Linked DNA regions of Homo sapiens. The protein of the gene in region 1 interacts with the protein of each later gene in a pairwise test. Each region holds a gene or a part of one and is shown on either strand. Other genes may lie near its edges. The genes, in order: SP4 and FOXP2.

Region 1 (15,992 bases):
CCCTGCTCTGTCCAGATTTTTTCAAAAGTGTGTTCCAACCCATTAAGCATATTTAGAATCAGTATATATAGTGCCTTCTTTGGCTTTAAGGAGCTTTATGGCCGGGTTAAGACCATATAATTTACAGATTTGGGCTGACCAGCCATTAGGTAATCTACCTTTCTCACATAGGGAGTGTTTATCTCCATCAGTGACAGCATTGCCATCTCTCGTTCGTCACAACTCATCCACAAAGAGCCTTATCCCATCATGTAGTGGAGCTTCCCTAAGGTTTGGTCCTACTTTGGTTTGTTATTCTATGATATCTAAGCAGTTCTGGTCTGATGTCTTTGATCTCCTCTCCTTTCCATAGGAAACTGGCTGCATTTAGGCAAATATTTGTTGTTACAAGCAAATAATTTTTTTTCTTAATAATATGGCTTCATATTTTATGAAGAACGTGTTCAAACTATCTCCCGGCTTTTGGTTTAATATATTCCTGACCTGGTGTGGAGCGCTTACTATTAGGGCCCCAACAAAGGTTAGCTTTCTACTCTCCTACCAGCAGGGCTGTGGCAGCACTGCTTGCACGTATTTGGGCCACCCCTGAGAGACAGGATCGAGAAGCTTGGAGGCAAAAGCAACAGATTCCCTCTTCCCTCCCCAGGTTTGAGTGAGCACCCCAAGGGTGATCCACTGTTACCAACAGATGGAATGGTTTCTCTAAAGATGAGAGGACCAGGACCGGGGCTGTAATGAGGGCCCGCTTTAGCTCTTTTACCACCTGAATTTCCTTTGAGGACAATTGCAAGGGATTGGGTTCTTCTTTTAGTAACTTGATATATAGAGTCTTTGTCTTTTGATCATATGAGTCAATCCATAACCTATAGTAGCCAGTTAAATCTAAAAATTTTTGGAGTTCTCTTTTTGTCTTAGGCAAAGGCAGACCCACTATTCCCAGTATTCTCTCTGGGTTTATTCTTCACATCCCTTCACTAATCAGGTGTCCTAAATATTTAACTTCTTTTTCTGCAAACTGCAGTTTGTTCTTAGATACTCGCAATCCCCTTTCTCCTAGGAAATTAAGCTTGTGGTGGTTTCTGATACCTCGGTCCTCCTCTCCCCAGAAATTAAAAGATTATCTATGTATTGTAACAACTGGGTTCCCCTGGAAGGTTGAAATTCCTCCAGGACTTTTTCTAAGATTTGACCAAATACGTTTGGGGCTTCTGTGAAACCTTGTGGCAGCACAGTCCAGGGGTACTGTTGTTTTCTCCTAGTTATAGCATCTTCCCATTCAAAGGCAAAGAGGTTCCCTAATCCTAAAGTCTAGGGGACATGCCCAGAATGCATCATTTGGATCCACCACATTGAACCACTTACGTTCATAGGGTATCTTACTAAAGAGGGTGTAGTGTTTAGTCACCACAGGGTGGTAGGTCTGGACAGTTTGATTTATAGCCCTTAGATCTTGTAGCAATCTATACAACCCATCAGGCTCTTTGGGAGAATTGGAGTATTGTAACATGCAGGGTTTTAATTGTCCATCGTTAATCAATCCCTCTATTACCAGTTGGAGACCTTTTCTCCCTTCAGTGGAAATGGGATATTGTTCTCTGCAAACTACTTCTGGTTGTTTTAGGTTAATCTGTAAGGGTGTGATTTTTAACCCTCTGTTGCCTTCCCTAACCCTCACAAGGGGATTTAATTTTTCTTTCCTCCTCCTCTGTCAGGAGGCCCATCATTACTTTTATTTGTCCTTCCTCTATTCCTAATCCTAAACCCAATCTCACAATCAGGTCTCGACACAGGAGGTTAGTTCCTACTTCAGGAACAAGTGACGCCTCAATTTGTTTTGCTCCTGATGTAATTAAAATTTTCTTAAATATTGGAACCTGAAATCCCTCCCCTTTTACCCCTGATACTTTCAATTTTTCCTTAGAGAGTTCTGTAGCCCTTGGTTGGTGAATTAGGGAGGAGTGAGCTGCCCCAGTATCAACCAAAAATGTCACTTCTCCCTCAGGTCCCACCTTCAAATTTATTAAGGGTTCCTGGTGGGATCTACTCAGAAGGTGCTCCTGCCCCCGACTAGTCTTCATCAATAGTCATGAGGGGTATCACCTTTTCTTTTTTCCATTTAGGACATCCTCTCTTCAAATGCCCTGTCTTTCCACACTTGTAACATCCACTCATAGTCTTAGGACCTTTTCCCTGCATTTCCCTTCTTTCTTTGTGTTGAAATCTATAATTCCCTTGTCTCCTAAGTGGGGGATCTTGATGTAAGTCTTTTCTGACTACCTCTTCCACAGTGGAAACCATGATTTTTGCTTTTTGTTTCTGCTTCTCTTCCTTTCTCCTTACAAAGACCCTCTGAGTTTGCCTCAGTAAATCCTCAGTTGGTTTCTCTTTCCATCCATCAATCTTTTGTAATTTTTTGGTAATGTCAGGCCAGCTCTTAATTACAAAGTTAACCTTCAAAAGGCATTGCCCTACTGGGTCCTCTAGATCTAATCCGGAGCATTTTCTCATCTGATCTCTGAGCCTATATAGGAATGCAGAAGGAGTTTCCTCTTTTTCTTGTTGAATCGTGAATGTGTCCTATGTCCTACGAGTGGACTCCTTGATCCCTTTAATTATTAGTTCCTGGAGATCCTACATTTGGGCGCAGTCCCTGGGATCATTATTATCCCATTCAGGATTAACATTTGGAAATTTTTGTTTGGCTGGTGAGACTTCTTGCCTGGGAGGGTGTTGCCTCTCCCAGATGGTCATGTCCACTCTCCTGATCATTCCCCTTTCTCTTCCTATGAATAGGATATTCTTGATGGACATCATTTCAGCCCAGGTGTAAGAGCTGTATCCTAGGAATTGGTCCAGATGGTCTGCTAAACCGAGTGGATCTTCTAGGAGTGGTTTCATTTTTTTCCTGAAATTCCTAATTTCAATACTTGCAAGAGGAGCATTTACAAAGCCAGTCTCTCCCTGTCCCATGGGAACTCCCCTAAGAGGGAACATGCTAGGTGCCTGCTGTGTGGAAGGAATAGGGAAGTTCTCAATATCCCTCTTACAGTGTTCTTTTCTTAAATTTGGATAAGGATTTAGAGGAGCAGTTGGTTTGGCTCCGCCATGGTGTCCAGGTCTTTCCTCCTCTAACCCTCCTGCTGCCCCTTGATTTTCCTGTCCCCTATTTTGTGAGATGTATGGAGGGGCATGGATGATAGGGTCCCAGGGCTTTTCCCTGGGTGAGGGATTTTTACTAGGCTCTTTTTCTTCTTCTTTAAGTGGGAATATGGGGCTAATTCCTTGATCCAGCAGAGAGCATAACCTGTCTCTTGTGAGGTTGGGGTTTTATTATTCACATAGAGAATTAAAGCTTGGCACACCTAATTTTTATCTGAGCCAAACTTAGGCCATAGGACTATGCTGGTAAATGTCAGAGGGAGTCTCTTTGGCTCCCTCTTTCCCTTGTCCCCTAGGCCTAGAATTTCTGTTTCCCATTTTTGGTCAGTCTGTGTCTGAGCTTTTCCCTGTGTTCTCAGCACCCCCTACTGGAGGTTTCTTGCACACCCATGGAATCACTTCATCCATTCTCTGGCCATTCTTTGTCCATTCTCCTCACGGGAGAACGGAACCATGGATTGGGACTCTGCACTTGCTTCATATCTAGGGTACATCTCAGTCACACACACTCAACCTCTGAAAATGCCCAACCACCAAGACAGTACTTACAGTCCAATTTTCCTCCCTTGGCTTCTGCACGAGGTTGCCTGGTTGCTGCAGTGCCTGCTTTTCTCCCTGTGTCGCCTCTGCTGCCTCCTGAATAACAGTCTCAGGTTTGTCTGTGGCTTCTGTGGGGAGCCAGGATGCCCGGACAGAGTGGGCCACCCAAATCGGGTGGGACACCTCTGCCCTCTCGGCTGGAGTCCCACTCCATGCAGGCACAGAGATCCCAGACAGGCCCCCAGGTTTGTGAGAAACACAGATTCACCTGTCCAAACCCAAAGAATGGACTTGGAGACACAAACAATGGAAGCGAGACTTTTAATGGTGGTCTTGCAAGATGGAGTGTCTGGTAGGCAGGCACACCCGGGGCAGTTACAGCAGGTAATTTATTTCCTAGCATCCAAATCTCACTGCAACCTCCACCCCGCCTGGTTCAAGCGATTCTCCTGCCTCAGCCTCCCAAGTAGCTGGGATTACAGGCGTGCATCACCACGCCCAGCTACTTTTTTTGTATTTTTAGTAGAGACAGGGTTTCACCATGTTGGCCAGGCTGGTCTCAAACTCCTGACCTCAGGGTCCACCCACCTCAGCCTCCTAAAGTGCTGGGATTACAGGTGTGAGCCACCGCGCCCAGCCTAAATACAGTTTGTTTGTTTTTTTAAGTAGGCCACTGCCTCCACCTTTGTACAGAGAAATCCCAGGTTCCTCCTGTCAGAACCTAGCTAGACCCTGGAATAAGATACCAAGACCAGGCTTGCCAACTGTGGCTTGGCATAGAGTTTGTGTTTGACCTGGGGTCAGGGCCTTGTCTACACACTTTTTTTTTTTTTTTTTTTTTTTGAGACAAGGCCGTGCTCTGTCATCCAGGCTAGAGTGCAGTGGCTCACTGTAGCCTCAACATTTGCATTACATGTTGATTTATATAATTAATGGATGGTGTTGCTTATTATCGATTGATTGTGAATCTGGCCACGACAAATTTATTCTAATTGTTTATTTTCTCAGATTATTTATGTAAATAGTAATAACTGTAAATAATAATCTATTTCAATTTTTTTCTTCCAGTGATTGTACCTCAGTTCATTTTACTGTCTTATATGTTGGCTTCGTCAGAATGTTTCATATTATGTTGAAAATAGTAATGATATATATAATAGCATTCTTATCTTGTTCCTGATGTATAAAGTAATAGTTCAGAAGTTTCTCCATTAATTATATGTAGGGGTATAGCAGGTAAAAGAAATAAATTTTTATTCCTGGTTTGCCAAGAGCTCTTATCAAAATGTGTTAAATTTTATCACACTGTTTTTATGCTTCTGTTGACCTTTTTTTTCTCTCCTTTAACTTTATGGAATCTTAAGTCATACAAAGTATTTTATTTTTGTGTAGTCAGATTTGTCTATTCTCTCTTTTATAGTTTCTAAATAACCTGTTGTACTTTTTAAAGTACCTTCAAACTCTAGGTTATAGAAATATTTTCCTTTTTTTTTAATACTTGGTTTTAAATCTTTGTAGCATGTATCTTGGTGTGTGGTATGACATGGAGGTGCATCTTCTTTGTGTTACTTCAGATGGATGTTTAATACAATATTGTATTGAGTGCAGTGCTCCTGTAAGTTTTAATATTTGTTTGTAACAATAATAAGGAAGACTAATGGTTTTTTCAAAGTTTACTCAAAAGTAAAAGCACACACGTAAAGAAAAAGAGAATGTAAAGAAAAAGAGAGAATATCTGACGTGGACCAACTTGAGCCTATAGATTTTTTTTATTGGTAAGTCAAAAGCAGGGCCAAGAAAAGAAATTATCCAAATTGAATTTTCTCATTATATTAGTCTGTTTTCATGCTGCTGATAAAGACATACCTAGACTGGGCAATTTACAAAAGAAAGAGGTTTAATTGGACTTACAGTTCCACATGGCTGGGGAGGCCTCACAATCATGGTGGAGGGCAAAGAGGAGCAAATCACATCTCGTGTGGATGGTGGCAGGCAAAGAGAGAATAAGGAAGACACAAAAGCAGAAATCCCTGATAAAACTATCGTATCTTGTGAGGCTTATTCTCAAGAACAGTATGGGGAACCCACCCCCATTATTCAGTTATCTCCCACTGGGTCCCTCCCACAACATGTGGGAATTATGGGAGCACAATTCAAGATGAGATTTGGATGAGGACACAGAGCCAAACCCTATCACTTATTACCCAAGTTTTATCAGACTGGGAAAACAACATTTCAGTCCCTTAAGTAACAATTTTAGAGGGAAGATCTACGGCTAACAGTTATTCATTGTGCACATCAGGATAAACCAGTTAACCAAATTTTGATATGCCTCATTTATTATACACAAAAACAAAAAGGCCTTTTTGTTTTTAGTTAACATTAAACTAGCTTTTATTCCAAAACAAAGAAGTCGGTCCAGTAAAACTATCTTATATTTTGAAGAAAACATATTTAAGAATTGCTTTGGACAACAGAAACTGTTATCTTATGAAACCTAAAAACTTTATTAAATTCTGAATGTAGCATGTGCCTGCCTCCCATTTTTGCCTTGTAAAGAACTCAGTATGCTATTAAATTATTAACTTAGTTTATTTGAAATAGTTCCAAGATATTTCATGCCTCCAAGATTAAAACTAAAACCCAGGTTAGCAGTTTTGAAGAAGAGTGGACATGAGCCTTGAACATTATATATATTTGTTACATCTGATAGAGATATTTTAAATTGTCTGCTAAAAACCCTCTTGCTTTGTAGATGGGAAAACTGAGAGTTCCAGTGGCTATTTACTTGCTCCAGCTTTTATTTCCAGTTCATAGCAGAAGCAGGACTTAAACTTCAGGTCTTTTCGTCTCAATCACATGGTCTTTCTCTTTGCATTGTGTATTTGATAACGTTTTTAAATAAAACAAAGCATTTTGCAACTAGTGAAACTGTACAAAAAGTCATATAATGTGACCAGAAGGGAGATTATTAAAAATTATAATTTCACTTAAGCAAAATGTGTATAACGCCATTTACTGTTTTTCTATGTAGGTGAAAAGAGATTTGAATGCCCGGAATGTTCTAAAAGGTTTATGCGGAGTGATCATCTCTCCAAACATGTCAAAACGCACCAGAATAAAAAAGGTGGTGGGACAGCTCTTGCCATTGTTACCTCGGGAGAACTGGACTCATCTGTTACAGAGGTGCTTGGCTCCCCAAGAATTGTCACAGTTGCAGCCATTTCTCAAGATTCGAATCCAGCAACTCCCAATGTTTCAACCAACATGGAAGAATTCTGAAAAGTTATTTATAACAGAGACCTCTAGTGCTGCACTTGTTTACACACCTTTGAAAATCTGGAAATGGGCTGGTCAAGTGGATTACAGAGTAGGAAATTATGTTTTCATTCTTGGCTTCTTTAAGTATTCCAGGGTTTGGGGTCAACACGTGAAGTGTTGAATTTTAAAAAATACAAAAAGCAGACTGATGTACTGGAAACAGAAAAGTATTTCCTCCATACTATAAGTTGTAGTTGTTTGGAAATATATCACATAACCTTTATACAGAATCTTCCCATCTCTTAATATCATGTGTTAACATGTTTAAAAAGACCTTAGTAGTTTGCAGGCTGGACCTTAATTGGACTTATTTTCTTTGAAAGTACTTTGTTATAAATTCAGTCAGTAATAATTTACGTGTATTCTTTTTCTCTATAGCACAGAAAACAGATAGTTAACTGATGATAGGGATAATACTGTATTTCCTTAGCTTGATTTTTGGAAAATCAACCGAAAATAGTTTGGCCGTCTTTTCTAAATGTTAGAAATTCTTCAACAGTTGAATTAGGTAAGTTCCAAAACAGTAATCTGAGATGCATCTCAGATCTTTATTACCACTACATTATAGTAGTGTGTATGCAGACAATCAGTGAAGTCCAATTACTTTCTCCATTTGGAGACACAAGAGGAACATAGAGTTAAATCTTAGGTTAAATTTTAGGTTGACACCTTAGGAAAATGCTGGGAAAAAAATGGTTAAAACAAAACTCATCATAGCTTCAGAAAAATAAAATGAGGCATCTTAACATGCAATGTTCTAAAGTTAGGATTGATTATATTCCTAACCCTAGGTTGAACCACAAAATTTCATTTAAAATGTTTATATTTGGAAATATTTGCATAGAGTGTAAATTGTTCTGTAGTTTCATATTTTGTAAATATGAGTTATGTTGACAATGTGCAGAATTCTTTATGCTTTGATGTGGTAGCCAAAGAAAGAATTACACTTTTTTCCAAGGCCAGCAGAAAATTCTCTTTTAACTACATTGTAATTCTTGTTTTCCTCTACTAAAAATTGGCCAGTCCCATTTTATTTCTAGTGCTATGTAAGAAGGTAATTAGGAATTATAACACAGTAATGTTTTTATGTTACATCAATAACTGAATTTTCCCTAAAAATTAGCCTAATATATAATAGATATATTATGAAGCAAAACTTTTATTTTTGAAAAGGCAGAATAATTTTCAGTGAAGTAAGTGACTAAAGAAAAAAACTATATTATTGTTTATGCAAGGGTCTTACAGGAAAGGGTCTTTTTTTTTTTTTTTTTGAGATGGAGTCTCGCTCTCTTGCCCAGGCTGGAGTGCAATGGCACGATCTCAGCTTACTGCAACCGCCGCCTCCCAGGTTCAAGCGATTCTCCTGTCTTAGCCTCCTGAGTAGCTGGGATTAACAGGCGCCTGCCACCATGCCTGGCTAATTTTTGTATTTTTAGTAGAGACAGGGTTTCGCCATGTTGGCCAGGCTGGTTTCAAACTCCTGACCTCAGGTGATCTGCCCACCTCGGCCTCCCAGAGTGCTGGGATTACAGGCATGAGCCACCATGCCCGGCTAGGAAAGGGTCTTACTAGGAAAGATGGCCAAAAGTTTCATATGAAAAAAATTGGATTATAAACCAGTAACTTAAATATTAATAAGGATATTTTATGTTTTAAAAAAGTATTTACACAGAATCATAATCAGTGAAATTGACCATTTGAAAACTAAAAGTTTTTACCTACCTGCTCAATTTATTAACATCATTGCTTTGGGGACTGTTTGAATATAGGTACGTGTTTTCTTGTGCATTCTCTATAATTTCAGGAAAAGTACTAATGCGAATTCTCTTCCAAAATTGTGATGTTTCTTGTATTTTTGATGAAGGAGAAATACTGTAATGATCACTGTTTACACTATGTACACTTTAGGCCAGCCCTTTGTAGCGTTATATAAAACTGAAGGTCTTTTGTGCTTTCAGTTTGTATAAAAAAGCTTTGAGATTAAAGGAAAAAAAAAATTTTTACACTGTGGTTATAAATTTCAAGTTTCTTAAAGCTTTTGTAGACTTGTAACAGAGTCTTTAAATTTAAGTTGGATTTTGTAAATTGTTTTGTATATTTTATTTAATGTACTCTTAACAACTGATGTATCTGGCTTTAAAACATCAGAATTGGTTTGTTGTTTTGTTTGGTACAGAGGAGCATTTGGTAGTGTTCATTTTAATTTTATTATATAGGAGCTGAAACATCAAATATATATTTTATCTATCATTATGCTACACAATCAGTGCTATAAATTTTTTTATGCAAAGAAACTTTCTTAATGTTTTAATCATGTTTCCTCAGAGTGACACTTTTTGTTGTTGTTAATACCAAGTATGAACACTCTGCATCATTATTCCATGAACCAGTTCTAATGCAAACCTATGTATGTCCATTAGAAATGGAAGTTATTTTTTAATCAACAATGAGGCCTATTATAAATTTATCAGATGAATCTAGATAGCTTTATAGCATATAAAATATGTTAATTTGTGTTAGCAGGTGCACATTTCACCACTGAAATTAGAAATATTTTGACAGTCTGTTCTGCATACCATTCTGAGTCTACTTTTCTGTCTTTAGAAGAATCGTAAATTTCAGTGTCCTTTATTTGACTCAGTGGGATATAGCTGTTATAAGTAATAGGGCACAGATGTGCAGTAGAGTCTTGTTTAATGGCATTTCACTGTTCATTCCCTTTACCACCGTTATAAAACTTTTCTTTATTGTAATTATCAGTGCAAAGCTATGTATTTATCATGGTAAAACTCCAGTGTTAGAATAGTTTTTTCTTACAGTATACTTTCTTTGGTTAGGTTTGTGTATGTGTTGCTGATTACATTAGAACTTGATGTTAAGTCATTTATCACACTCTCATGAGAGCAGTAATAAAAGTGTGTAATCTAGGAGAAAAAGTTAATTTGTCAAACTTAGATAAGCATGATGTTTAGGTCCTATTTTTCAATTTTATAACTGTTTTATTGCAACAATATTTGTATTTAAGTCTCCATTTTAATGCCTTGTGGTGTTTTTTTATGCATGTCACTAAGTTGTCATCCCACATAAATTGATGTGCAGCATAGGGTATTAAATCTACATAATGATTTTAAAACAGAAATAGTTGATGGTAAAATGTAAATGTTTTGCAAAAATTCCTTATAAAAAGTTTTGTAGTAACATTTCACTTGTAAATTTTTTTTGTAAAAAAAAAAAAATGAAAAAAAAAGATGAATCCAGAAAAAAACCTGTTTCCCATATTCTAGAATTTAGACAATTATTCTGCCAGCAAAGCCTCTGGGGCTGTAATTGACATTTTTACAGTGCTGATTTGTATAAAATTTGTTTTTTGTGGATTTGGAAATAAAATCATGTACAAGTTGTTGCCTGCAATAACAATTGCAAGTAACCTATTAAAAATTCCCTTGAGTTTAACATGTTTCATTTAATTATGTATACTATAAAGCAGCAATAAATTATTTGAACTATCAACCTACTTATCATGAACACTGGAGAGTTAAATGCTTCTCACTGGAGAACACATTGGCCACCGTTCGTAATTCCTCGTATTGAGATCTGGTCACCATTTCTCTGAACATACCGCCAAAGAACTCCAATTCAAATTGCATGTTAATTTGTAGCCATTGCTCTAGACATTTATGGAAATTAAAATTTGATTTAGAGACACTTTTTACTTAAATATTTTAAGCAATCAATGTTAGGAAATTATAGGAAGACCTGAAAACGAAAAACATAATTAAAATATTATTTAAGCTCACAGAATCACTGAGAAGCAATATAGGCCACATAGATGCCACAAAGACTACAAGCAGAAACTGTCTTCCTCCTGGGAGAGCCCTGCAAATCTCATGAAGACCTTTAGTAACATAATGAATACATTATTGTAACAACTTCAGCTAACACATTTCCAGACTCACACCAGATATAGACATAGCAAAGCGAGGGTTTGGCCCAGGGTGGCGGAGGTAGGATGTTAGGCAGCAAGAGAAGTACGCTGGCCCACTGACAGAAGACTCCAAAGACTCTAGGTTTTAGGTAGTAAGCAGGGGCTACAAGGTGTTTGGACAGAGAACCTTGTACAGCAAGGTCCTAAAGGCATAGTTGTGTTACAACTTTGTAAAATAATGTGTTCATAACACTGACTGAATCAAAGAATTTATGCTACTCTGTCAAATAAGACAGTAAGGAATTGTCAAAGGATGTTTTCTATCCAAAGTAAAGATACACTTCAATTACCTGAAAAATTCGCATTAGAAAGCATCAGGATGATATCGTATAAAAGGGGATAATGCAGGCCAGGCGAGGTGGCTCACGCCTGTAACCCCGGAGCTTTGGGAGGCTGAGGTGGGTGGATCACGAGGTCAGGAGTTCAAGACCAGCCTGGCCAACATGGTGAAACCCCATCTCTACTAAAAATACAAAAATTAGCCGGGCGTGGTGGCGTGCGCCTGTAGTCCCAGCTACTCGGGAGGCTGAGGCAGAATTGCTTGAACCCAGGAGGTGGAGTTTGCAGTGAGCTGAGATCACGCCACTGCACTCCAGCCTCGGCAACAGAGCGAGTCTCTTGTCTCAAAAAAAAGGATAATGCAATTAGAAAATGTCATTGTGTTTTTCAATTTTTAATATAGTTTGCTTCTTGTACTTCTAGAAATTTCAGCCACATGAAAAAGACAATAATAAAGAAAAAGGGATAAATCACCTTGAAAATTGACAAAAGCTGTTGGTGTAGTAAGTTAGGAAAGCTGAAGCAGTGCTAAAAGCAATACTAATAGGGTGTGGTTTACAATGCCATTGGTAATGACAACTTGAAAATAGAAAAATATACAGTATTGTTTATTTTTTAATTAAAAGTTCAGATGCTTAATTTCAGGGGTGCAGAGACTTCAAGTGTCACAGCAAACTTGAAATACTTTATTCCTTTGTGAAACTGAATAATATATTGCTATATTTACTGCCTGAACAGTAATGTCTGCTTAATATACACACAACCAACTTGTAATTCGGTAGCAGGACTTTTAAGGCATGTATTTTCCATTCTTTTAAGATTGGCTGATTAGCATAAACCTTGGGCTCTGTTCCTCTTAGTAACAGGTGGCAATGAAATAATTTATTTTTGGATACCTGAGAGTAATGTCAAGCAGAAATAGTGGAAGGAAGGAAGAGAGAAAGGAAAGGAAAAGGAGCATAAAGGCCTATTTATAATGCAGTGGGTTGATCTCCCTGGTTAATAGCTAAGCACCGTGCCAAAAGAGATCAACGGAGAGTCTGAGGATTTCAGGCTGGATTCCTGGTTCAGCCACTTAGTAGGCACACAACCGTGGGCAAGTTATTGAACTTTTAAGCACTTATTTTTTTCTACTTCATAGAATAAAAGAGCAATGCTTATTAATGTTAAGCATTATGAATAATACATAGGTCTGTTAAGATCAAACAAGAAAACTATATTGAGTAACACATAGTTGTGTTTAATACGTTATTATTGTTAATTATAAGTTAACCCAAAAGGCAGACGGGTGTCTTAGTCCATTCGGGCTGCTATAACAAGATAAACTAGACTAGGTAGCTTATAAACAACAGAAATTTATTTCTCACTTCGGAGCTAGGAAGTCCAAGGTCAAGATTCTGGCAGATTCAGTGTTCATTTACTGGTTCATAGATGGTGACTTCTAGCTGTGTCTTCACATGGTGAAAGGGACAAGACAACTTTCTGGGGCCTCTTTTGTAATGACGCTAATCCCATTCATGAGAGCTCTACTGTCATGATCTAATCATTTTTCAAAGGTTCCACCTCTTAATATCACTGGTAATATTATTGGTAATTGGGTTTCAACATGAATTTTTGGGGGGCACAACTGCTCAGACCATAGCAGGGGGCATGGAATAGTTCCCACCTGGACCAATGCTGAAATGTCTTGAAAATGGGCAACAATACATCAAAAAGTTAATTCTCAAATCCCATTTTAAAAATGAAATTTCAGTGGGAATTTCCAAATTCAAACATATTTTTCTCAAACTGTGAGCTACTTTGCCATACTCTACCTCAAAATTTTATGACAGTCTTTTTCCAATTCTAAGAAAAATAAAAGGTTTAAATCTTAGTTACTTTCTTCCCCCCCCCCCCTTGAGCCAAGGTCTCACTCTGTCACCCAGGCACACACCACCATGCCCAGCTGGTCCTGGGCTCAAGCGATCCGCCTGCCTCCACCTCCCAAAGTGCTGGAATTACGAGCATGAGCCACTGCGCCTGGCCTAATTCCTAATTTTTAAATGTTAATTACAATTACTGTTTGCCTACCTCAAAGTGATAACAGACAAGCACACCGGTGAACAAGAAGCAAACCAATTACTGAAAAACAGAAACAGCTGCTCATGTGTTGTTCACTAACTTTTGTGGGTTTATGTGTGGATGATTTTCTATATTTAAAAGCATTCTCTATATTTAGAAATATATGTGTTAAATAAACCCAGGCATACAGGGCAAATGTACCCCTCTTTTCAGCTACCTACCAAATTGCAGCCAAAAAAAGAAAACATGGAATGTGGAGTTCAAAAGTTTCTTAGACAACTTCCTCTCAGACTTGGTTCAGAAAAGGATAATAGGATGCTCTACTTTTACTTTGCTTTTTAGATTCTTTGTGAAATAAGATAGGATATAGAATAAATGTCTAAACTTATAATGCCCTGCAAGGCTGAGGCATCTCTGCTGGCTGTAGCTTCAGTTGTCCAGTTACAGCCTTCTTGCCCATTTAACTCTTACCTTTGCTTCAGATCCTGTTCTTAACTCTGAGTTGCTCTGCTCATTCCCAAGCTTACCTTTGTTGGAGATGCTTTTTCCAATTAATACATTTATGGAGCACTTACTGTGTGTCAGATTCAGGCACAAGGGATGCTGTTTTTCTTTTCTATGCTAACTCTGCCTTCTTGCATCCCAACCTCAGCTGGATTTCTGGAGCTCCTTGAGATCCATTTACCCTATGCCTAGGAATGGGCAGGCCAGCAGTTGCAGAGATACTGGAGTCTATTGAGACCATATCTACGGGGAGGAGCCGAGGCTCAGGTAATCTGAAGCAAGTTAACAGGTTTCAAGTCAGGGTCAGAGACTTAAGAAATCAGATGTGGGTGTTAAGATCAGACAAAAGCAAATTATAGGGAACAGGAGAAAATTAAACGAGCAGTTGTCATAAACGCCAGTTTGTCTTTGAATCATGTCTTTCTAGGTGGTTGGCTTGGTTCAAATTTTGTTATTTATTATCCTGCTATGAATTGTGGTTTCATAAATATTTTATTTATAGTAGTAGTATTTTTTAGATGTTTAGATGTGGAAACATAATAACGTTATATTTTCTGCTGGTAAAATTGTTCCTTGCTTGTATAATGTTATGCTGGAATTAAATACATCAGTAAATCATGGTGCTGTGTGAAGGGCATTATGGCTTCCAAGTATTTGGTCACCTTAACAAGTCTGAAAATCACTGTTGAGGAAAATAATCTAATGGCAAAGAATAAGCTAACTGAAAAAAGATTCCAACCCAATTCAGTAATACTGTAAACAGTTACCACTTTAATGTATTTTATGTTTTTGCAGCCCTTTACATTAGCTTATTCTTTGTCAGGTTCATATATGTACACATGAAATGTATGTGTGTACATGTTAGGTGGAGCATCATATATGTTTATAGTTTATAAGGCAGAATTAAATTTATGTTACTATGGTTTGGCATTATAGTTGCTTATTCTCTGTCCTTAATTATGTGGACAGACATAAAATTGTTAGAAAATTAAGCCCTATTCTGATTATCACTTACAACCTTGTTTAAATTTTCTTTTCTTTTCTTTTTTCTTTTTTTTTTTTTTTTTTTTTGAGATGGAGTCTCACTCTGTTGCCCAGGCTGGAGTGCAGTGGCATGATCTCGGCTCACGGCAACCTCCGCCTCCCGAGTTCAAGTGATTCTTCTGCCTTAGCCTCCCATGTAGCCGGGACTACAGGCGCCTGGATAATTTTTGTATTTTTAGTAAAGACAGGGTTTTACCATATTGGCCAGGCTGGTCTAGAACTCCTGACCTCCCACGTAGCTGGGACTACAGGCACCCTGATAATTTTTGTATTTTTAGTAGAGACAGGGTTTTACCATATTGGCCAGGCTGGTCTAGAACTCCTGACCTCATGATCTGCCCGCCTCGGCCTCCCAAAGTGCTGGGATTACAGGTGTGAGCCACCGTGCTCAGCCTGTATTTTCGTTTCTATGGAGCAAGTTATGACTAGAACAGAGTTTTGGGTTCTGTAGAAAAAAACTCATTTCTCCTTGTTTTGCTCTGCTTTTCACGATATTGTGGATGCCAATTTGTACTAAAAGTCTGTGTAAATATGTCCACCAATTTGATAAGTAGCTGGAAGTACTTTTATTCTTGTGTTCAATTGTAACACAGCACAGCATTCATCAGTCAGAAGGGATGCTGGACATAGTAATGGAAGAAGGTCCTAGAGCAATCTCCCTCCCTCCCCTTAGTTGCTGGGTTCTGGGGAGGTCATGGGGTAGTAGTAGGGGAGTCAGGAACTAGAAGTTTATTGTATGGAATTGCCTCCTTGTATAGAATTATGTCAATATTTTAATAACCAACCAGTGTGGTTATACTGGTGTCCCAGATTAATGTGCACCCTGAGTAGGTGCGTTTATTCTCTACCCATGCTTCAGACTTCCAGTATGTGGATGGAAAAACCCAATCCCAAAACCATTATTTTAGTTATTAAGATAATAAAAAGGCCCATGCAGTTACTTAAAGATTTTGCTGAGAAACATGAAAATCAAGGGAAAATGCAAGTGGAAAAGTCATTTCACTTCAGGATACTTAAGACTGACTCAAAAATTCCTGTAAAATGTATGTAAGATGCAGCTTCAGTGGATTATGATGCCTCAAACCATCTTAGAAGGCAA
Region 2 (15,992 bases), about 93 Mb from region 1:
AAGGCCTTGCTCTAGAGCTACTCTGTCGCAGAGCTTCCTCTCATTTTCAGGTCATTACTCATTAACCCTTTTCTCAGGACTCCTTCTGAGGGTCACCCCATTTTCCTATTGTTACTTAGGCTTTTCCTATTCTTGCCTTTATTTCTCTCCTTAGCGCTCACCACTATATATTTTACTTAACTTATTTATCATCTGCCTTCTACACTAAAATGTATGTTTTATGATGGCAGGGATTTCTGTCTGTTTTCTTCACTGCTATATCCCCAGTGTCTATAAGAGTGCCTGCAGTCACAGAAAGCTCAAAGAATGTTACTTGAAAGAGTTTTAAAATTTGGCCAGAACACTCGTGTACTGGCAAACATACTCTGGGAATCTGTGGACTAGACTATTATGATTAATAGACAACTTTTATCTTAAGTGAAGATTATTCGGTTTCTCTTATTTCAAGGATATATATACTAGTAGTGCCAAAAAGTTTTGTAATTATGCAATTTTAAAATTCCGTGGCCACAAAAAATTGGGAATCCCTATTCTACTTTTGGTTGATAACTTGGGCTTGTGCTTATTCACTGCCAGTACCACAAATATTAAAAGGTTTTTACCACAGGAGCTGAGTAAATGAAAGGGTAATTCCTTAATCAAATTGTCTATCATACCACAGATAATACAACTTAATAATAATTCTTAAGACATGGTCTCGCTGGAGTGCAATGGCATGATCACAGATCACTATAGCCCTGACCTGGGCTGAAGTGATCTTCCCTCCTGAGCCTCCCAAGTAGCTGGGATGTGACCGACCACAGGCATACGTCATCATGCTCAGCTAATTATTTTATTTTTTGTAAAGATAGGGTCTCACTATGTTGCCCAGGCTAGTCTTGAACGCCTGGGCTGAAGTGATCCTCCAGCCTCAGCCTCCCAAATTGCTGGGATTATAGGTGTGATCCACTGTACTTGGCCTAATAATAATTCCTTAATCCCATATTCAGAGTTTGTGGAGTATCTACAAGATGACAAGCACTGTGCTAAGAATTAATTAAAATTAATTCATATCTAGATTATATGTCCTTAAGGCACACGAAGTTTAAAAATGTCTACGCTAGTTTCAACACAGCTTTGAAAATGCTGCTAAGATGATTTTTACTTATCACTAAAATAAGTAAAAAGCAATTTTTATTAGTAAAAAATCTCCTTGGCAGCTTTTTTACACTCAAAAAAAAAAAAAAAGATTTTTTCAATGTCATTTCTTTTTCTGTGTCCAGTAATTGATTTTTAAATGTTAAACAAATAATTGTATATATTATGATGCAAAGTATGTATACTGTTAATTTTTAACTAACTTATTTAGTGATACGCTACTTATTTTCTAAGGTTACTTATAATTTAAAGTAATAAAAGTGAGTTTTGGTAGAAACATTTGTATTATATATATTCTGTTAAGCCAAATTGATATTTAATATTTGAATTTGAATCACTGAGATATTACTATGTACTTTTCAGTTTTCATCTTAAATTTTGTATTTTAAGATGTGAAACTTAAAAACTGGTATACATACATGGCCAGAATAATTGAATCACAGAAAAGGGTATATATTACAAAAGTAAACTTCCCTACCAGCCTTGACCTCTGGATACCCATATCTCTTCTTCAGAAGAGAGTCCCAGTTTCTGGAGTATCCTTCAGAGATCTGGGTGTTCATTTATAATTTGACTAACTCAACATATTATTGATTTATATTTGACTAGAGGTCTACTATCACCTACAGATACAATGCCTATCTTTAAAATGCTTGTCTAATGAGAGGTGAATTAAATACATGCTTTGTCCAAATGCCAAATTTAGCAGAAGTAGGTATTCAGCTGAAACTGAGATCAAAGATAAATTATCTTCTCCAAAGAAGGAACTTCTGGGATATGTGAATACATCTGATATTAACAAAAATTAGTACTATCATTTTTTATAGGTTGCATTTCAAAAGCTTGATGGATATTCTATTACAAAACCAATGATGTTTCCTTTTTCTCATCATATTTTAATATGGCAAAGTTGACACACTGCTTTCGAGTCTTCCTCTCAAGATGTAAAGAATTGCCAAATAAAACTTTAAAAAAAGACTTAAGAGATAAATGGAATTAAATTCATTTTAATGTTATACATTCTAGTTCACAAAATAATTCTACAAGAATTATAGAGTTATGATACAGTTTAATCTCAATCTTTTTACATTTTTTCAAAAACTAACTCAACATACTCAATATTTTTCTATATATGTAAGTATTTACTAGTTTTTTAAACATAAAATTAACAGCATTCACAGGTAGCTTGGCAGAGTTTTATACCTGCAATAATAAATGTACATTAAAACTTCAATTCAGTGATGAAATTTTAGCACATAAAGCACCAAATAAGATTTTTTCCCCAAGTTACAAATGGAAAACTTTGATATTTGAAAGGGAATACTGACATGGTAATATTTTTGCATGACATGGATTGTTCATATTGGTAGTGTTGTTGCTACAATTACATACAATAGTAATCTATGCAATCACAAGATCATTGATTAAGCAGTAAATCCAGGATGCCAGAAGTAGGCATTTGGCTACTTAGACTTCCATAAGCATAGAATGAAGCCAAAGCCAAACAGCTAATTTTGGCTGAATATTGCGCCCAAAGACTATCTTCGGCACAATTCTAACTTAGCCTAAAAACATTATATTTTATTTCAAATATTTCATTTTTAATTATTATTCAACCACTCTTATTCTGAGAATCTCTAGTTCTATAATGTGTTAATTCAGAAGAATCCAGGCTAGAATCTAGCATTCTCTGTTTGGTCTCTCAAATTGGAAAGGAAAATCTTGTCTTCTAAATAACTTTTATAAATTAAAAAATATGTAAAAACTTGGAGTGACAGAAAATCATCACCACATGTATTCCTATCCATATAGTCATAGTAAATGTGTGAATATATTGTGGATTAGAGTACACAAACGTTTATCGGATGTCACAAACATATCAATGTTTAAAGTTAACTTCATCTTTCCTAACCAATAGACAATTATCCTGGTTCATTAAAATGTTTCACTAAATTTCATTACTAGATAATATATAAACTATGTTATTCATATATTACATAGATTTATAATCAGTATATTATTCAAGATGGAACTATAAATCCATCCTTTCTATTTGACATATGTATGTATATACCTATATACCTATACTTATGTATATATCTATCATCTGTCTGTATACAAACCAAACATATACTTAGGAGATGGAAGTTTACTTGCCTAACTAAAATCCAATATTATAGTAATATTAATGATGACCTTAAATGATTAATATTTAAAATAATTTACACTAAGATGATAAATATAAAACTTTAGAGAGGAATGTAGATAAATCTGCTATTCTACCAAAATTCTTATAATTTTATTATTTCTCATTGTTATATACATATATTTTAATATAATTTAAGAAGCTGTAACTCTAAAAGTAGCATGAAGAAGTTGTGTTAAATTATAGGGACAAATAAAATATGACATAGTTTTAGGTCGAGCACAGTGGCTAATGCCTGTAATCCTAGCACTTTGGGAGGCCGAGGCAGGCGGATCACTTGAGGTCAGGGGTTAGAGACCAGCCTGGTCAACATGGTGAAACCCTGTCTCTACTAATAATATGAAAATTAGCCAGGCGTGGTGGTGGGCACCTGTAATTGCAGCTACTCGGAAAGCTGAGGGAGGAGAATTGCTTGAACCCGGGAAGGCGGAGGTTGCAGTGAACTAAGTTAGCGTCACTGCACTCTAGTGTGGGTGACAGAGTGAGACTCCTCAAAAAAAAAAGAAAAGATACAGTTTTAAAGACACAATGAGAACATCATCCATCATTGCACATTAATCCTACTTGGTTTTTATATGGCTATTTTTCAAGGCTAATCAACCAATCAAAAACCTGGTAAAAAGTGAACTGGAAACTGATAATAAAAATATTCAAAATACTTTTACCTTAACCTCTAACTAAGGAAGAAATGATTCAGGGCTTACACTGTACAACAAATATTTCTTTACTTTTTCCCCACTCTAGTTTTGGGATTCCAGCATAGTACCGTAACGCTAGGTTCCTTTACTGTAGCTGGTGTATTCAACACACAATGAGCCTCCACAATGATATTTTTCACACTTAATCATCTAAATCGTAAAAAACAAGACAATGATGCCGGTTTGTGTGGCTTACATGGCAACAACACAAACTTTGATCGGTGAACCAACTACATTTGTGGCCCTACAATTATTCAGATGGATTTTTTTAACCTATATTAATGAAAACATAGTTGAGTGATTTCATCTTTTTTCCTTTTTAAAATATAAATTTTCTGCTCAAAGACAGATGTTTTCAGATTTACTTTCCTTTCCCTAAATGTTCGCCATTTTCTCATTTTATCTCTCATATATCTTATCAAGGATAAAAACAGAAGAAAAGAGAGAAACAAGGATTCTATGAAAATAAATTTTAATTTGAATTCAGGTAATTTCTATTTGAAAACTATTAGAATGATTATATCATTATAAATTTCATTGTTCAGAGAGATGTTTTTTGCTTGTTTTGAAAGAATGTGGTTTCACAATATGTTTTAAACAAGTTACACTGTGTTTCTATTAGCACATATTTTAAACTTTCTTAAAATGTTTACTTGAATTAATAAAATAAGATTGTGGTAGATCATGCTTTTCTGTTGAGGAAATTCTCATATAATTATATCCTAAATACAGATTTCATTTGAACTTGACTGAAAACAAAAACAATATTTTTTCTGTTTTAGTATAGTTTCTATTGAAGAAATCCATGTTTACACTGAAATAATTTTATAAACTCTTTTCTTTTTTACTTTTTCATGTCTTTAAATTGTATTTATTTTTCTAAAGAAGAATAATTGTGAATAGAACATTCATTGATATAATGACGCTATGATTTATTCCAATTTTCTTTAGAATATTTATTCCAATATTCTTTAGAATAACTCAGAAAAACAGGCTTATTGCCTTGTTTTTCTTTTGCTATTTAAACTTTATCTTTTTTGATTTCCTAGGAGTGCTTCAATCAGGTGAATTAGAAGATTTGAAGTCAAGTGAGAGAGGAAAACCAGGGGGAAAAAAGCCAAAGAGACATTAATTTGATAAATAAAAAGAGAGAACATTACCACGATACTCCTGATTTTCTTTAGTATGTCCTTTAGAATCAGCAAAATGTGCAGCCAATGCTACTACAATATGAACTCCTCTGTGACAAATATAATTAATTTGAATTAATGTACATTTGGATTAATGTTTGTCCCAACAAAATCCAAATGCAAGTTAGAATATCCCTTTATGAAGTGTAATGATATATAACTTACCTGAATTGAGAATTTTAGCACACAGTCATTTGTTTACCATTATTTGTCTTTTATAATTTAAAACTTTCCATTTCCCAAAAGTGAAGGGTTATGAATATGACACACAATTGTATTATCAGAGTACCTCCAAATTTTTCTTACAGAAAAATAAGAATACAGTTGACAGATTTTTTAAAACTATAGTTTACAATACATGCATAGGCAATGTTATTTGAGAGAAAAAAGAATGGATATGTCCTGTGACATAGGATGGGGTTCTACAAAGCTTAACTTGGAATGTGCTCTATAGAAATTCATGAAGCCTCTCTTTAACATGTGGTGATTTCAGTGTGAAGATTAGGAACTTTTATCTTTCTTTTATCAGTTGTCCACCAAACTCCTATCAGCTCACTTAGTTAAATGGACTGCTGTCAGCCTTCCCGGTAATCCAATTCCCTGCAGATCCTCCTGTATATTCAATAGTGCTTGAATTGTGTTGCCCTTATAAATCATTTTGTGCCCATAAGACTAATAAATACACATTTAATATCTAACAAAAACTTGAAAGTTTTACTTCACACTTGAAAGCAGTATATGGTAAAATTTCTGAGCCTCTAGAAAATAGGTCATGCCACCATGTTAACAATCACGTTTTAATAATAAATTTGAAAGTCATAAAAACAAAATTTCTCAAGGTATAAGGCAGAAAGGCCATGAAATGGTAGAAAGTACAAGATTTGAAATGAAGAGTGCACAACATTTTGTATGTACCTTGAGGCAGCGATTGGACAGGAAGTGCTGCCTGGCCAGGTGGAATGGAGATGAGTCCCTGACGCTGAAGGCTGAGCAGATGCTGCTGCTGCTGGAGTTGTTGCATCTGGAGAAGCTGCTGCTGGAAGACAAGCTGCTGGGCTGCCAATTGCTGTTGCTGCTGCTGCTGCTGCTGCTGCTGGTATCAGAAAACCCAAACCAGTAAACAGCAGAGAACATGGTCTGTACAAACAGCTCTCTTACAGGGAAATGCACACTCCTTTCATTGCCTGAGTGGGTTTTTTGGTCATCCCATAGTCAAAGTTCAGGGGCAGAATGTGAGTAAGTTCTAGATTTTCAGTTGCCTTTCTTTCAATTATTAAATCGTGTTAGAGAACCAAGGAACTTGCATCAAAAAAGTATGGAGCAAGGTCTAGAGATAGTATGTAATAAAGGTTCAGCTTTTTAAAATCTACTTATTGTAGATAATAATACATTTCTCTAGATTAAAAGAACACTACTTTACAGAAATAGTCAACTTCTACGACACACTTTTTTTTTTTTTCCAATTGAATAAGTTTGATCTGCAGAGGTCCATGAATGTGGTCTCTGGTGATCTATTAGTAAACTGGGATGTAGCCTTCATAGGATAGGCCTGTTAGCTCTCTCTCTCTTCTCCTCTCTTGTTGGAATATATTAAAGGCAGAATTACGTTCAAGGCAAAATTAAAAAAAAGTGCCCTTATTATAAGAAAAAGTATAACTTCCAATTTTGTGAGGCATTACAAGACAAACCAGAGGTCTTTGGACTCCAGAGGGTATGAGATGGCAGTCACACTTCAGAGAAAGACAAGCTGCTGTGGAAGACCTTTCCTTTTTAGTTTGGGGAAAAGAGAAACTTCTGATGCGCTCACTGGAAAACAGACTGCATAATGGAGCAAGTCATGTGGATTGCCCAAAGCCTCGGGAGAAATAAGGGAGCAATTTCTATTCTGTAGTTGATGGCTGTCTGAAATTCTATTCACAAATCCAAACAGAAACAAAGCCTCAGGAGGTCAAAACTGTTTCCTGTACGTTTGCATAATGGGCAGCTTGAAGACAACGGCTCTGATACCTGCTGATCAATTTAACTACTTCAACATGTTTTGTTTGTATTATGTTTATATTTGATGCAGTTTGCTGACAAGTGCAAGCTAGGCCTGAGAAGCCCGCTTGTCAGTTTGATTTATGAGCATATCAAACTGTAACTTTCTACTCGCCACTCTCAACCTACAGTAGCAGTTCATTAATCAGGGGCCTGTGACTTTGAAATCTGTGCTCAACCAGTTTCTCCCTTAGTCTCCCTATCCCCAACAATAGGCCAAATTTGCATGCATGTTCTCTGAGCTGCACCACTGAGAAAAATAAGGTTCCCTCACCAACTTAGATTCTCCATGAATACAAGATAATCAGTACTTTGTCCACCACACAGCTTGCTCTTTGTACTGTGATTCATTAGTGAACATTAGACGACAGCAGCATTAGATTGTAACTCTCAAGTCCCATGCTACAAAAAAGGAGAGCCTGAGAGCCTATCACTGTTACTAAGCTCAGTAAAAATATATAATACTGCAACTTTGACAGCAAGAGCCTTGTTATAGGAAGATCTAAGACTATTCTTGCCGCTCAAAGCCCCTTCTTAACTGCAAACTGTTATGTATCAATGAGATAACCGGATCCTACCTCTTTCGCTTGCTTTCCAGGATGCTGTTGCTGCTGCTGCTGCTGTTGCTGCTGCTGCTGCTGTTGTTGCTGCTGTTGTTGTTGTTGTTGCTGCTGCTGTTGTTGCTGCTGTTGTTGCTGCTGCTGCTGTTGCTGCTGCTGCTGCAAAAGCTGAAGATGTAACTGCTCTTGCTGTTTCTTGTAAAACTCTTGTAGTTGTTGCTGAATAAACCATTTTGACTTTAATAAATAAAGGCAAAAGTTTCACGTATTATAAATCTCCTAAACTCTTCTAGACTGGCATATGGCAGAGTATCCATTAAGATTCATCCCATAAAAACAACAAAAAATATACATTGGATTCAAAGAGACAGCTCTACATACATTTTTTTCCAAGGCAGCTCTGAAATTTTCCAATCCAGAATCCAAAAAATCCTAAACAAAAGGGTATAGAAAGTCTGTATTCTAAAGGGTCAGAGCCAAATTAATACTTTAAATTATTACATCTGAAGTCCTACTGACACATAAAAACTAGGCTATACTCTACCAGTTGTAAGAATAAAAATTTAGCTACATAAAATCAGGTTGCTCAATTCTTATTGGAAAAAACTTAATCCATCAGATGTTCAGAACAATGTCAGATTTACAAGTAATTGGTCTGTAGTCATCAGCACAGAAGTTAGCAAAGTAATTATATATAAAAAATTTCAGGTAAAGCACATTATTTTCTCTCTAATAAGTAAGTGTATAATATAAAGTCTATATACACTCAGGGTTCCGATATGGTATTTATTAGGAACACTATGTTTGTTATTTTAAAAAGATAAATTTCATAAATTTGTGGCTCAGCTGCCTAATTTCATTATAATAAATAGATTCTTCTCTTTCTAAACGATGAGTATACTATGAAAAGGAAAATCTGGGATGTTACTTTCTCCATTTTAACAAAGTGGTCTATTCAAATTTCATACTTTTGTGAACTAAAAGGAATGCTAAGGTGTTAGGAGTTTTAAAAGCAACTATTATCTGGTAAGTATTTTTGCATTTTTTTGGCAAGTCAACAAATTGAATGTACCTAAGCATTTGAATATTTAAATATTGGCTCATTCCATTTTCAAATTACACCTCTCTCTGCTCTTATTCTAGACTTTAATAATTTTTTTAAAAAAATAAGCAATCTAGATTTTCTTACGAGTTCTATAATTAAAATGTTACATTTATGTTCTAGCACGCTAATAGGTTGTCCTTTCAAATGGAGACTGAATTGTCAAATATGCCCACTGCACTTTCAAAATAAGTGCACACCTTCTAAGTCATGCTAGAACACCAAAGCAGGTAACCCACATTACCTGCTGCAGCATGACAGCCTGCTGTTGTTGGAGAAGGGCTTGTAGCTGCTGAGGAGACAGGACTTGTTGCTGAAGGATCTGCTGCATTTGCTGAGGGGTGATCACCTGGGGAGTCATCATGGCCACTGACACAGGCACCTTGCACAGAAAGAGAAAGAGAAAGAAAATTCGTGGTCATAACCAAATATCTGTTAATCAACTTCACAAATAGTATGTTATCTTTTATAAATTCTTTAGCATTGATGATCAATAATTTTTACGTCACATTTTACTATAACTTCTTTACAATAGTACTAAAGTATCACAAAACATAGACACTAGCTTTCCAGAGGCATCAGATTTCATCAAACTCTTTATGTTCCATAGCTCTTATTTAACATGCTTAGATATTTGAATTTCGGCTATAATATCTATAGTTAAAAATAAACAACCACATGGTGGTGTTCTCAATATTTCATAATTGATCATCTCATCAATGTCACTGTGCTATAAATACAAAGGTTTTTGAAATGTCTTAAGTGTAATTAAAATAAATATTAAAGATTAAAAAATTGGAAATATGCATATAAATGTTATCTAAACTAGTAAAAAGCATGTATACAGTATACTTACTTAAAAATATAATCATCATCTTCAAAATTTTATATACACATGATAAAGTACTAGAAAATAAATATAGTAATAAAATTTAGCATATGACAACATGTGATAATTCATATAGGAGATATATATATATATGTGTGTGTGTGTCTGTGTGTATATCCAGAAAAATAATGACATACATAGGTCTTCTGAAAGAAGAACTCATATAACTAGTATTCTAGCTTCTTCTTTAAACCTTTTCTTATTTCAAGCAACTGAGCTTATAATAGGAAGTACAAAAATTTAGCAATTACTCAAAGGTTATTCATTAAACTGAAAATAATAAAAGTAATTTACTTAAAACTTTTTTCCCACTACTTCCTTTTTCTTCAGGGTTCTGAGGATGAGAGGCAAAAAGAAGATAGGGAAGGAGAAAAAGATATAAAGGAGAAAGAAGGAAGGAAGTAAGGAAAACGTAGAAAAAGGACAAGCTAGTGGGAAAGCCCTAGAGAAAGACAGAACGGATGTGAAGAAATAGGAAGAGGATGGTAAGAGTGGTGATCAGAAAAACTGGTATAGAAACCTAAAGTATATGCTCAGATAGAAGGCAAGTAACACTGTTTGAGGCATTACTTGTACTAACCAGTATGCAATCAAACAACTTGTCAACTTTCCAAGTTTGCAACCTTTGAAATAGTAATCACTTTCCTAGAAAAAACAATTCACTTTTACTGTAAATAAAAGCAAGTATTTATATAAATACTGTTTTAGAACAAATTTATTGGGCAACATGTCTTTCAAAACCAAAAAAGATTAAAAGATACGGTTCACAACTTATTTTAATTGTTATTTTTAATGCAGTTCAAACTTTTCCAGTGTGGCACTTTATGTTATGGAGAAAGGAGAAATTAATAATGAAAAGAGGTTAGAAGAAGCAGAAGAAAAAAAAAAAAGAAATCCAGGGTGGATTAATTCTTCCTCCAAAAAGAAATAAAGAACTAAATAAATCAAAACCTTTCATATTTAATACTGAAAAATAGCAATGTCTTTTCTTTTCTCCATGTTAACATATTCAGATTAATTAGATCAAATTGAGTAACTTGAAACATTATGACAGAAATTCAGTGATTTTAAAAAATATTTCTGTATTTTTAAGGAATATACTGGCATACCTATAAATTACTGAATTTGAATTTATTATAATAAAAAGCATTCTGAAATGTATATTGTAAAATTAATTCACCAATGGGTTTTTCAAGTGTTTAGTTGTTTTATAAAATTGACTGTCAATTTACTTAACTCCTTGTTCTCTGATAAACAAATAGAATGGTTAGAACAAGTAGTGAGAAAAAAAATGTATCAATCTACAAAAATGTCTTTTCTTCGAACAATCATTTACCTCATACTATTTCCAAATAGGAATCAAACTGAAATGGACAGAGAAAGATAGACATATTAAACTAAAAAGGCTGTCAATCTAGATAGATAGATAGATGATATAGAGTTTATAGACATGTACATGGATATATATAGAGAGAGAGACAGAGAGAGAGAGAGAGAGAGATATGCCTTCTATAAAGTTAATCATAGATAAGAAGCTTGTCGCACTTTTCTTACATAACCGCTCCTTATTTTTTCAGTATATAGCGTTTTAATTATCCCTTAATTATTCCTATACCTACAAGTACAAATACTTTATGTATAATGATAAGTGAACTTTATGGGGAAAGTTCTATGAATGGAGGTATGCCGTAAACCACTACGAGTTTACAGTCAGATTTCAGCTTATACATATAATATGACTGTAGAGTTTGTTGCTATTGTGATCGATTTGATAAATGAGCAAATTTAAGCAAGTTTTCTATCTTCATATTCTTTAGGGTATACTAGTCCTTACACTACACAAGTTAGATGATTATTTTTACTCCTAAAATGGTTTGAGTGCCTTTCAATTAATAGTTATGACATAAATATAACCATGAAATCATTCTCTTCTTAAGATCATATGTTTTAAATGGTCACATGTATGTGATTTTTTAAAATTTTAATCAGATTCTGGCCTACCTTCTAGGAAACTGTCATCTAAAACTGACAATATACAGATATAAAAATAAATAGAAAGATGAGCCAATTAACACATACATGATTGAACACTCTACTTCTATGTGTACAAAAGACATAAATTAAAATTAATTATATAGGTAGAAAAACACAGGTACACTTCTGAGGGTTTTCTAACACTACAAATAAAGTAATACTATCATCTCTAAATCCACATATATAAGCTCACCCAAACTAAGGAGATTACTAAAAATCTAAGTTATTTAATAAACAAAAAACTAGTTTTTTCTACAACAAAGGTCAGTAATATTGCAGACCCGTCCACTTGCAATTTGAGAAATGCATAGCCTTCATTTTTAAGTGACTCATTTTAAGCGACACATTTCCTCTTCTCCTCCCTCATCGTTTCTTGTTACTGTCCCATTTCATTTACTTGCTACCACAAGCTACTCTAGGTATTCATTGATAAAAATGAATAAAGATTAATTGTATACATATAAAAATGTAGAGATTATACTACTTACCAATATTTAAATAGACGAAATCAGTATCAGCCTTTTAAAAATTTATGGACAATTTTTTTGAAATACATATACCTTAGCAAGTTCGGTGTTAGACTAACGGAACTATTTTTCGCTAGATATGTAATTTGATTCATGCAAATATTCTAATAAGGGATCACAATTTAGACGTGTGACATAGAAGAGGAGGGAGAACTTACTTCTGGTGAGAAGGCAAATAAAAGTCTGGTGGCTCTACCACCAAATGAAATCAGAAGAAATAGCTCGTTTTGAATGGGTATTTATCAGTTAAAATTTTCAAGTGTGAAGGAAGGAAATAGAGTCATCTTTGGTTGGGAGATTTTTTTCTCTCTTGGTATTTACTTTGCTGACAGATTTAAAATTCTCCTTAGTGATGCACCAAACAAGGGTCTCCATTTACCCTTATTTATTATCTCATTACATGAATTAAGCACAAACCCGACATGCTGCTCTGTGCACCAAGAAGTATTACTTAACTGAATATAAAGATAGGTTTATGCATTCTAAAATGAGAGAGGGAAAATTCTGAAACTGTCTTGCAAAGAGTCAGTGGTAAAAGTAAAAAAAAAAATTTAGGTATTATCCTAGAATAGGTAAGTGTATTACAATTAATATCACCTATTATTAATAAGTGATATTAAATATAATTATATTTAGTTATGACATAAATATAACCATCACATCATTGTCATCCTAAAATCATATGTAAATCATAAAAACATATATATTATAAATGTGTTTATATTAAAATTTAAAGTATATGTCATTGAGGAGGTCAAAAAAGTTATTACGAGACAATGCAAAGATCATATCTCTGTTCAAATGCATCTAAAGAGTTATTGTAAGAGTTATGAAAACAAACCAAAATTTTTGTTTTACATAAGCACAGTCTTTTCACAGTCCAGTTCAGTTGGAGCATTTCTGAATGTGCTGGGCTTGCATATTAAGTGCGTCCCTTAATTAAACATCCCAATTATGTGTGGGAGATTGGAAAGGTTCTTAGTATAGTGTCAGTCCAATTCTTTCTTCACTAAATGTGAATTGGAAATAGCAGTCACAATCTATAGATGACATTTACAGTATAAAACATTATTTTCTTGTTAACACGGTCTGCCAACTAGTGGTTCACAGATCTTTTTATTCTTTGTTTAAAATTTGAAGACAAAGGAAGTCCTGACTCTTTTGCCTTCTTGGTACTTGAAAAATGTAACTATGACAATTAACTACTTGTGTAATAAAAGCAAAATTTGTTCTTATGTTACAGTATCTGCTCTGATTTTGACTGTTAATAGAAAATATTTTATTGTACATTCTTGATACATTTCTTCTGTTTGCTTCTATCCTCTGAAATATCTTTATTTACAGTTTATTTTAACATAAGAAACTATTTATTGCATTGGAATGCCAGCTTTGGTAAAAATTCAAGCCTTGGTTACATGTGTAATGTCTATCATAATAATAGCCTTTCAAAAGCTTCCTGGTTTTATGGTATTAAAAAGAACTGACAATGAATTGAGTGGTATTTGTAAGCTTTTCATCAAGTACTGAACAGGAGTATTTAAAGAGATCTGGGATGGACAGTGCATATTGCTATTTAACGCAATCTTTTAGCAGCAGGGAAATAGTGTGACAGGAACAACAGAAATAATATAGCACAGTGCAATAACAGACACAGAGATTCCCTTTAATCATGATTCATCACTTAATTTCTACTATTACTTTAAGACACAAGTTTTAGTATTCATTTAGTTACCTTGATAAAGCAAAGTGTTTCCTGTTTTGGGAAGTAGTGTTTGTCCAACTTTGTCCTTCTCTTAGTTACAGACAAATATTTCAAGAGATTATATTCTTTTCTTTGTACTGCTGGTGAAAACCAGACTGCTCATATAGGCGTGTCATTGTAGAGATTATGGAGAAGTGATATATAATATGCTACACCATATGCTTAAAGGCCAAAAATGCAACTTCTAATCTCACTCTGTCTAATCAAGCTGCTCAGATTATTTTACATACATCTTTGGTTTAGGCCTTGACATGCCCTTGTTTTTCTTTCTTCTCAAAGCTAAAGTTCCCCTCTTTGATTAGCTGAAACATTTGCATGGTCACTACACATTTTTCATTTTATAAATCATTATGCATTAGCAGTCTTGATCGCCTAGCTTGACTAATCCTGACGAACTGAAATCACAGCTGAAGGTCAAACTCCATCCCACTGCACATTCATATTCAAACAAATCTGCACCATTGTTCATTAGGCTCCTAAAATCATTGGAAAGAAGTTACTGCATATCTTACACTTATTTTTTATTCTTTCCAAAACTTAACCTATAGAACATTAATGCTTAACAGATAAAAGCAGAATACAAACAAAATCAATAATACTTTGCAACTGAAGTGCCTGGTTTTATTTTAAGTTGTAAAATCTAGAATATAATCAATAATTACATAGAATTAGAATACTTGAGTGCTCATTTGGGAGACAGGTGCACCATAAAAAGAGGTATAGTCATTTATGAAAACACCATCATTTATTTACATTTAGTAACTAAAAATGTTTATATGGCTAGTGAGCTAGATCCATTCCCTAGAATTAAGATCTTTCTCAGAATTACTGGGAGACTACTTTTCTGTAACTGTGCTAAAAATAATCTTTTATTTGTCTACATTCATAAATATTTCCTTTTAAATTTTAAAATGAATTTTAATACACCAGATACAAAAAACAAAACAATTGTGATTTTGATGGAACTCACAAAATTAGCCCAAATAATATTAATTTCAACAAAAAGCAAGCTGTCCTGATAAAAGACAACTCTCTAAGAAAGCAAAAATAAATATGAGAAGGAAGATCCTTTCATGCTTTCATAGGCACTCTCATAGATTGATGGATGATAATCATCTTAATTTCACTGCTCTCCAAAACAAAGAGTCAGAAAAGGCAGCAAAAGACACTAGCCCATTCATTCCAGGACCTGCACAATGCTAATTCCAACATTTAGCTGCATGGTTTTCTGCTTGATGTATCAGAGCTCAAAAGATGAAAGCAGAGAAGTAATTGCTCTCCTGGTTCTTATTCTTCGCTGACAACCCATAAATTTAATTTTACACACACATTCATTTACATTTTCAAGTATATGACATGATAATTGCCAGAATATAACACCTCCATTCCTGTAGATACAGCAACTCACTGATTGACAAGTGTGGTGAATAGAGAGGAATGGTGGTTGAATTGCAGAATTTTTTTTCTCCTGAAAATTACACTTAGAAGGGCTAACGGTAATAAGCATTTATGAAACAGTCTCACCATAAACATCTGCACATAAAATGAACAGTAGAACCTCAGATATTACAGTCTCTCAGCTTTTTGCGCTTTACACTGAACTCTACTACTGAAATAGTAAAATTACTAACAGCAGATCTACTGAAACACAAATGTATGAAACAGAGTCTACCCCCAGCATTTACTATACCCTTTGGTTGTGATTCTTCAGTCAGTCATGCCATTGCAAAGCAATAAAATATTTAGCCTGTTTGAAGTATTTAATTATATTTCAAGATAATTTAAATATTTAAATATTTTTCAATGAAATGTACATTATGTTTAGGTCTTGCCAAGGGGACATATTTTGC

Evidence for each region.
Region 2: the proteins of SP4 (region 1) and FOXP2 interact in a two-hybrid assay, tested with the Homo sapiens proteins (2 studies listed by BioGRID).

The regions. Positions count from the first base shown.
Region 1 is NC_000007.14:21,504,289-21,520,280, forward strand, and holds the end of SP4 (transcription factor Sp4), read left to right. Parts: intron 1-6,733; coding exon 6,734-6,981; 3' UTR 6,982-10,534; downstream 10,535-15,992. UniProt on the Homo sapiens protein: Binds to GT and GC boxes promoters elements. Probable transcriptional activator.
Region 2 is NC_000007.14:114,621,860-114,637,851, reverse strand, and holds part of FOXP2 (forkhead box protein P2), read right to left. Parts: intron 9,313-15,992; coding exon 9,175-9,312; intron 8,261-9,174; coding exon of another isoform or gene 8,210-8,260; intron 8,048-8,209; coding exon 7,847-8,047; intron 6,325-7,846; coding exon 6,147-6,324; intron 1-6,146. UniProt on the Homo sapiens protein: Transcriptional repressor that may play a role in the specification and differentiation of lung epithelium. May also play a role in developing neural, gastrointestinal and cardiovascular tissues.